Homo sapiens: one gene and its partner. The protein of the gene in region 1 interacts with the protein of each later gene in a pairwise test. Each region holds a gene or a part of one and is shown in the gene's direction. Other genes may lie near its edges.

What was found.
Region 2: the proteins of SPAG9 (region 1) and RAB8A interact in binary tests that used the Homo sapiens proteins (3 or more experiments, as listed by UniProt).

The regions. Positions count from the first base shown.
Region 1 is NC_000017.11:51,113,756-51,117,868, reverse strand, and holds part of SPAG9 (C-Jun-amino-terminal kinase-interacting protein 4), read left to right. Parts: intron 1-4,113. UniProt on the Homo sapiens protein: The JNK-interacting protein (JIP) group of scaffold proteins selectively mediates JNK signaling by aggregating specific components of the MAPK cascade to form a functional JNK signaling module.
Region 2 is NC_000019.10:16,123,729-16,127,328, forward strand, and holds part of RAB8A (ras-related protein Rab-8A), read left to right. Parts: exon of another isoform or gene 1-1,741; coding exon 1,742-1,819; exon of another isoform or gene 1,820-3,259; intron 3,260-3,600. UniProt on the Homo sapiens protein: The small GTPases Rab are key regulators of intracellular membrane trafficking, from the formation of transport vesicles to their fusion with membranes.

The DNA.
Region 1 (4,113 bases):
AGCCACCACACCCGGCCATCAGTTTTCACATAAGATCATAAATTGTGTGTTGCTCAGTATCCAGAAATTGTCTCCCTTTGGCCAATATGTAGAGTGAATTCTGTGTTTAGTTTTCTGTGAGTGCTTTGTTTGCGCCTTTTTTTTTTTTTTTTTTTTTTTTGAGACGGAGTCTTGCTCTGTCACCCAGGCTGGAGTGCAGTGGCACAATCTTGACTCACTGCAGCCTCCGCCTCCCGGGTTCAAGCGATTCTGCCTCAGCCTCTTGAGTAGCTGGGATTACAAGCACGTGCCACCACGCCTGGCTAATTTTTTTGTATTTTTGGTAGAGACGGGGTTTCACCATTTTAGCCAGGATAGTCTCAATCTCCTGACCTCGTGATCTGCCCGCCTCAGCCTCCCAAAGTGCTGGGATTACAGGCATGAGCCACCGTGCCGGCCTGTTTGTGTCTTTAATGCGGAGACCAAGAGTCTTTTATACCAAAGTAAGTGCCTCAGGGTATTTACAGCAAAAGTGATTTGAAAGCATGGAAATTATCCATCACCAGAGAGAGTAAAGTAAATTCTGAGCACCTCTGTGGAAACTTAGGTGGGTATGTAGATAGAATGTTTTAGGAATGTGTGAGGTGCTATGATCTCTTGCTTGCAGGAATTCTCAGCAAGGCATCAAAAATTTAATCTTTATATTGATAGGACATATTTTGAATACCTTCTGACTTTTTCCTTTGCTTTTATTTGAATTTCTAGTGTGGAGCTAGTCTGCTGTTTTAGGGATTCTTTAAAAACAACCTAAAGAAGGGCTAATTTTAGATAGATTTGGACCGGTTTCAGATGCTAATCAAGAAATCTGTCATCTTATCGCCCATCACTCTCTCCTTTGGGCTGCCTGTGACACACCTCTCCATTCTTTAACCAAGACCCGTCTGATGCCTTTGCCCATGCTCTAGAATGCTCTCCTTAGAATTTTACATAGCTAGCTCCTCACTTTCTACTCTGTTTCAATTTCACTTTTTCAGCCAGAACATCCTGTTGACTCTATCCAGAATAAGCCCTGTGAACCTATTGAATAATTTATTTTAAAATCAGTGACTTTTAAATTTAAATTCTTTTTGGAGACAGAGTCTCAATCGCCTAGGCTGGGGTGTAGTGGCACAGTCACAGTTCACTGCAGCCTCAATCTCTTGGGCTCAAGTGATCCTCTTGCCTCAGCCTCCTGAGTAGCTAGGACCACAGACATGCGTTACCACACTGGGCTAATTAAATTTTTTACAGAGACAAGGTCTCACTGTGTTGCCCAGTCTGGTCTGGAACTCCTGGGCTCAAGTGATCCTCCTGCCTTGTGGATCCTGCCAAAGTGTTGGGACTTACAGGGGTGAGCCACTGTGCCCCAGCCCAGTGATTTTTTAAAATAAAAATCTGGATACAAAATGATCTGGAGAGAGAGGTTATAACTGGGTATGTTAGGGTTTTTCTGCAACTTCTGATTCTTTTAAAACAGGCATGATTTGCTGTAACTTTTAAAAAAGGGCCAGGTGTGGTGGCTCACATCTATAGTCCCAGCACTTTGGGAGGCCGAGGCAGATGGATCACTTGAGGTCAGGAGTGTGGGACCAGCCTCGCCAACATGATGAAACCCTGTCTGTACTAAAAATACAAAAATTATCTGGGTGTGGTGGTGGGTGCCTGTAATCCCAGCTACTGGGGAGGCTGATGCAGAAGAATTGCTTGAACCCGGGAGATGGAGGTTGCAGTGAGCTGGGATCGTGCCTCTGTACTCCAGCCTGGGCAGTAGAGTGAGACTACCTCTCAAAAAAGAAAAAAGAAAAAAAAAAGAAACTTCTGAAAAGTAGACATACGAGTTTAAAGAACCTTTAGGAATTTAGTTCTTAGTGATTCTGTGGGTCTTTTATGTTATCACTGTTATTCTCAAAGTGAGAGCTCATTTAGCATCATTCAGTAGAGGGAGATTACACATAAAAACGAAGAGGCATTGTCTTCCTTCCTTTTCTTTTTCTTTTCTTTTCTTTTCTTTTCTTTTTTTTTGAGATGGAGTTTCTCTTGTTGCCCAGGCTAGAGTGCAATGGTGCCATCTCGGCTCACTGCAACCTTCGCCTCCTGGGTTCAAACAGTTCTCCTGCCTCAGCCTCTCAAGTAGCTGGGATTACAGGCATGCGCCACCACGCCTGGCTAATTTTGTATTTTTAGTGGAGTTGGGGTTTCTGCATGTTGGTCAGGCTGGTCTTGAACTCCTGACCTCAGGTGATCCGCCCGCCTTGGCCTCCTAAAGTGCTGGGATTGCCACTGTGAACCACCGCGCCTGGCTCCTTCCCTCCTTTTTGAGATAGACTCATACATGCAGAGAATGGACTGAAGAGAGAATATCTTTACTGGGAATGGATTATGTGATTTTGTGTCTGCTTTTTTGTGGCCTTTTGCTTTAAAAAAAAAAAAAAAAGGATGAGTTCAAGCCTGGGCAACGTAGTGAGACCCCTCTTCCCCAAAAACCATAAAAAAAATTAGTTGGGTGTGATGGTGTGAGCCTGTAGTCCTAGCTACTCAGGAGGCTAAGGCAGGAGGATCACTTAAGCCCAGGAGTTTGAGACTGCAGTGAGTTATCATGGCCACGGCACTCCAGCCTTGACAACAGGGCAAGACCCTGTTTCTTACCAAAAAACAAAACAATAGGATGACTGAATGCAGAGGTGAGAGACACTACTGAGAATTTTCTAACTTGTTCCCATGGAATCAGCACTTAAAGCAGTAACAAAATGATTTTTGTTTAAATGGAGACTTTTGACACTTCTTGTCTTTGGAAGTGTATGAACATGGGACCCGTAAGACTCATGGGCAGGAAAATAGGTATTGACATTCATTGTTCTTGTTTTAGTGTTCTCATTCATTCATAATTTTTTTTTTTTTTGAGACAGAGTCTCACTCTGTCACCCAGGCTGGAGTGCAGTGGCACTATCCCAGCTCATTGCAACCTCTGCCTCCCAGGTTCAAGCAATTCTCCTGCCTCAGCTGCCTGAGTAGCTGGGATTACAGGTGTGCACCACTACACCCGGCTAATTTTTGTATTTTCAGTAGAGACAGGGTTTCACCATGTTGGCCAGGGTGGTGTAAAACTCCTGACCTCAAGTGATTCATCTGCCTCAACCTCCCAAAGTGCTGGGATTACAGGCGTGAGCCACCACACTTGGCCCACACTTGATATTTTATTTTTTAATTTTATTTATTTTTGAGACTGAGTTTCACGCTCTGTTGCCCAGGCTGGGGTGCAGAGGCACGATCTTGGCTTACTGCAACCTCTGCCTTCTGGATTCAAGCAGTTCTTCTGTCTCAGCCTTCTGAGTAGCTGGGATTATAGGCATGAGCCACCATGCCCAGCTACTTTTTGTATTTTTAGTAGAGATGGGGTTTCACCATGTTAGCCAGGCTGGTCTTGAACTCCTGACCTTGTTATCTGCCTACCTTGGCCTGCCAAAGTGTTGGGATTACAGGCATGAGCCACCATGCCTGGCCCATTTTTTAAAAAATTTATTTTTGAGACAGAGTCTTGTGCTGTCGCCCAGGCTGGAGTGCAGTGGTGCGATCTCAGATCACTGTAACTCCCACCTTCCAGGTTCAAGCAATTCTCCTGCCTCAGCCTCCCTAGTAGTTTGGGATTACAGGCACGCGCCAGCACGCCCGGCTAATTTTTGTAGTTTTAATAGAGAAGGGGTTTCACCATGTTGTCCAGGCTGGTCTCAAACTCTTGACCTCAGGTGATCCCCCTGCCTCGGCCTCCCAAAGTGCTGGGATTACAAGCGTGAGCCACCGCACCTGGCCTAAAAAACACATATTTTAATATTTTTATAGATCTTTTGATTGATTGATTGAGACGAGATCTCACTCTGTTGCCCAGGCCAGAGTGCAGTGGTGTAATCCCGGCTGACTGCAACCTCTGCCTCCTGGGTTCAAGCGATCCTCCCATCTCAACTTCCGGAATAGCTGGGACTACAGGATCATGCCGCCATGCCTGGCTAATTTTTGTATTTTTTGTAGAAATGGGTTTCCCATGTTGCCCAGGCTGATCTTGAATATTTGGGCTCAGACATTCCTCGCACCTCAGCCTCC
Region 2 (3,600 bases), on another chromosome or scaffold:
ACCACCATTGCAGCTGTGTCCTCATCTCTGTCAGCATGCTCATAGACCCTTGGGCCTCAAAATCCCAAGTTTGGGAAGCATTGGATGCCTAGAGACCCATGGTGAGGTTTGCCCAGACGGGGCCCTGGAAAATAGTCACTTGGAGCCCTGAGGGGTGTTTCCAGGAAAACCTGGAATAGGATGGCTGGCTCAGTGTTTTCCAGGTGCTTCTGCTTGATTCTAAGAGAGAGCTCTACCCACTGCCCCACTAACGTCCAGGTTCTCCCCTCAGCTCCCTGAAATAGGTATAATCCAGGAATTTGAGTCTTAGGCACATGTCACCAACTTAGTGGTGAAGGCAGGAATCCTGGGCTTTCAGAGGGTCCAGTCCCCGGATAAAGGGCCCCACGCCCCCTGTCCCTGACCATGTCACAGTCACAGGGTGTGCCCACCGTGGATGGGGCATGGCAGACATCATGGGCCACTGCAGCCTTGAGGTTCTTCGCCATGGTTGCGGCTGACTGTGAGGCCATTATTCATGTCCCTGAATTCCCAGGAGGATTTGGGGTTGCAGTGACTTTCTTGCCCCATCTGTGTCGTTTTTGTCCCACACTCTTGCACCCACATCTGTCTCACCATTACCACATGGCCCGTGTCCTTATTCTGCAAACTTGGATGGCCCCAGACAACTTGGCCAGCAGCAGAAGTCATCAGTGCCCTCAGGTGCCACAGATGCAGGGCTGGGCCTGGGGAGCAGGTAGCGAGGAGGAAGGAAGAAATCCAGGCCTGGCCATGAGCAGGCCACGTGCCTTGGAGCCCAGGATGCCCGGCAACAAAGGGGGACTTGTGATGGCACTGCAGGCTGGCCCGCTGTGGGCACTCCACAAGGACATCGAGAACCACACAGACCGTCAGAGGGTGGCCCCCACATGTGGGTTCTGGGGCTGAAAAAGGCCCAGGGATATTGCTGAGAGGATAGGTGTCATCAGTGCTTTTGGAGTTAGCCCCCCCCCGCCCCCCGTGCTTGAATCTTAAAGGTCACGTCTCTGTGCCTCAGTTTCCCCTTGCATCGCATGGGCATGTTTGCGCTTGTCCACAGCAGTAGCGAGGCTGTGGACCCAGGCTGAGGCGGGGCTGCCCCGAAGCTCTTCCAGGACCCACGAGCCGTCTCCCAGTTGCTCACGTCTAGGTTAGGGAACTGGAAGGGCCTTGGCACTCTCGGCTCCATCTTCACACAGCCGGTTCCCTCTGTGGTGGGGTCACTGGAAGTTGTGTGGATGTCGGGTCAGGACTTCCTGGGCTCAGTTGTGCCTGGTAGGTGGCTCAGGCAGAGCGTGGGGTGAGCAAGGGGTGAAGAGGAGGCCGATTGCAGGGGAGGGTCAGCGTGAGGGGAGTGCTGCTGGCAGTGGGCCTGTGGACCGGCTCCCACCGTCAGGCTGCACCACCCCGTGGGCCATGAGGGGAGCCAGCCGGGCTTGTCAGCGAGTGCGTGGCAGGGGCTGGCCTGTGAGGCAGAAGGGTCACCTCAGCGGCCCGGGGGGCAGGACAAGGCTGGTGCCAGAACCCAGCAGAAAGAAGGGCCACAGGGATGGAGAGGAGGGGGCTGGCTTCCGGGGCTCCACAGAGGTGGGGAGGGCGGCAGCTAATGGGCCTGGCTGTGCAGTGGGTGCTGGGCTCCCCACCACTGTTCTCTGGTGCCGCTGAGGCCTCCCTTCCAGAGCCTGCAGCCGATCAGGCACCTGTGTCTTCTCTCCCCGCGCAGGGCATCATGCTGGTCTACGACATCACCAACGAGAAGTCCTTCGACAACATCCGGAACTGGATTCGCAACATTGAGGAGGTGAGGCCCTCCGGCTCCTCCCACTGTCCCTGCTTCAGTCCTTGTCCCAGAGCCCTCTGGTTTACTCATGAGAAGGCCAAGGTGCAGAGACACATACAGGCCACTTGCCCACAGCCTCCTAGTCAGGGACATGGTGGGAGCAGGGACTGAGATGCAAGCAGCCGGCCCCAGGGACCACACACTGGCCTGGCCCCACCCCGGAGCCCCTCGGAGCCCATCCCTCCAGCTAGGCTGTTGGATCTGGCCAGTGTCATGGTTATAAGAGAAAGGATATCCAAGCTTGTGGTCACCATGAGTGTTGGGTGCTTTCTAGAGAAGGAAGGGTCTAGCACAGGTGTGACCCTTGTAGTTGGAGGGTGTGGTGAGCAGGCGTCAGTTGTACTTTGAGCTATATCGGAGCAGGGTGTGACCTGGTACAAACGACCTGTGTTCAGACCTTGAACCATAGAGCAGTGAGAAGTAGGCCAACCCCTCCTCCCCTCCCAAAGCCAGCATCTTCATCTTCTGCTCCCCAAAGAGCTGACCTCACCCCCAAAGCCTTCCTGGCTGCCGGCACCTGCAGCTTTCTATAACTAACCATGTGGGGCTTCAGGTCTGAGGCACAGCCAGAGAACTTTTCCCATCTATAAAACCACAGCAAAAGGGCATATCACTGTCCACCCAGGACTCATGGACCTCCCAGGCCAGGCCGAGAGGCCACCCCATCATTTGTGAGTCATTGCACTGGGCTCACCTCCCCAGTGACCCTGAGAGGGCTGTGCTGCCAAATTTGCCAGTGCAGGGCTGCACCCCAGCTGGGAAAGCTGTCTTCATCCGTGGAGAGGAGGAGAGCCTGGTCTTTGTGAAAGGTCTCTGTTTCTGGCCAGCGGGCAGGAGCCACCTTCTGGTTCATGGGAAGTGAGGCAGGGAGTGGCGCAGTAGGTTCCAGAGACCAAGTCTGAGCTGGTGGAAGAAGACAGCAGTTTCCAGTGTCCCCGTCCTCCAGGAAGCGTGGTCCGCTCCATGGGGACCCAGGGAGACTTGACGAAGGAGCTGCCTTTGGGTATGAGGGCAGAGTTTGGGCAACATCAGACAGGGTGGTGAAGTGCCTGCAGCTGGTGACGGCCTCGAGTTGCGACCACCTCAGGCACGGCCTGTTTCTGGAGCCCAAAAATAGTTGAAATGTCAGGGCCAGGCGAGGTGGCTTATGCCTGTAATCCCAGCAGTTTGGGAGGCTGAGGCGGGCAGATCACCTGAGGTCAGAAGTTTGAGACCAGCCTAGCCAACATGGCGAAACTCTGTCTCTACTAAAAATACAAAAAATTAGCCTGGTATGGTGGCAGATGCCTGTAATCTCAGCTATTCGGGAGGTTGAGGATCGCTTGAACCTGAAGGCAGAGGTTGCAGTGAGCCGAGATCATGCCACTACACTCCAGCCTGGGAGACAGAACGAGACTCCATCTCAAAAAAAAACAAAAAAAAAAGTGTCAAAGCAGAAGGTCCCAGGACAACAGCTGGGGCCTCTTGCAGAGGAGCCAGGGAGGGAAGGAGGAAAGCCAAGGTCGGGGGGTAAATATCTCAGCCTCACTCACCTCCCATAGGCTAGACCCGCCCAGCATCCCAGGTGCGGGGGCTTGATTGATACAGCCATAGAAGCTGCCAGAAAGCATTTCAGAAAATGTGCATTTGCTCAGAGTAGCAGCTAGAACCCTGGCCCCAGCCCTGGCATTGGCTGTGTGACATGGGGCCGGCTGCTTGGCCTCTCTGAGCTTCAGCTTGTCCCTTAGACCAGGCTGTACCTA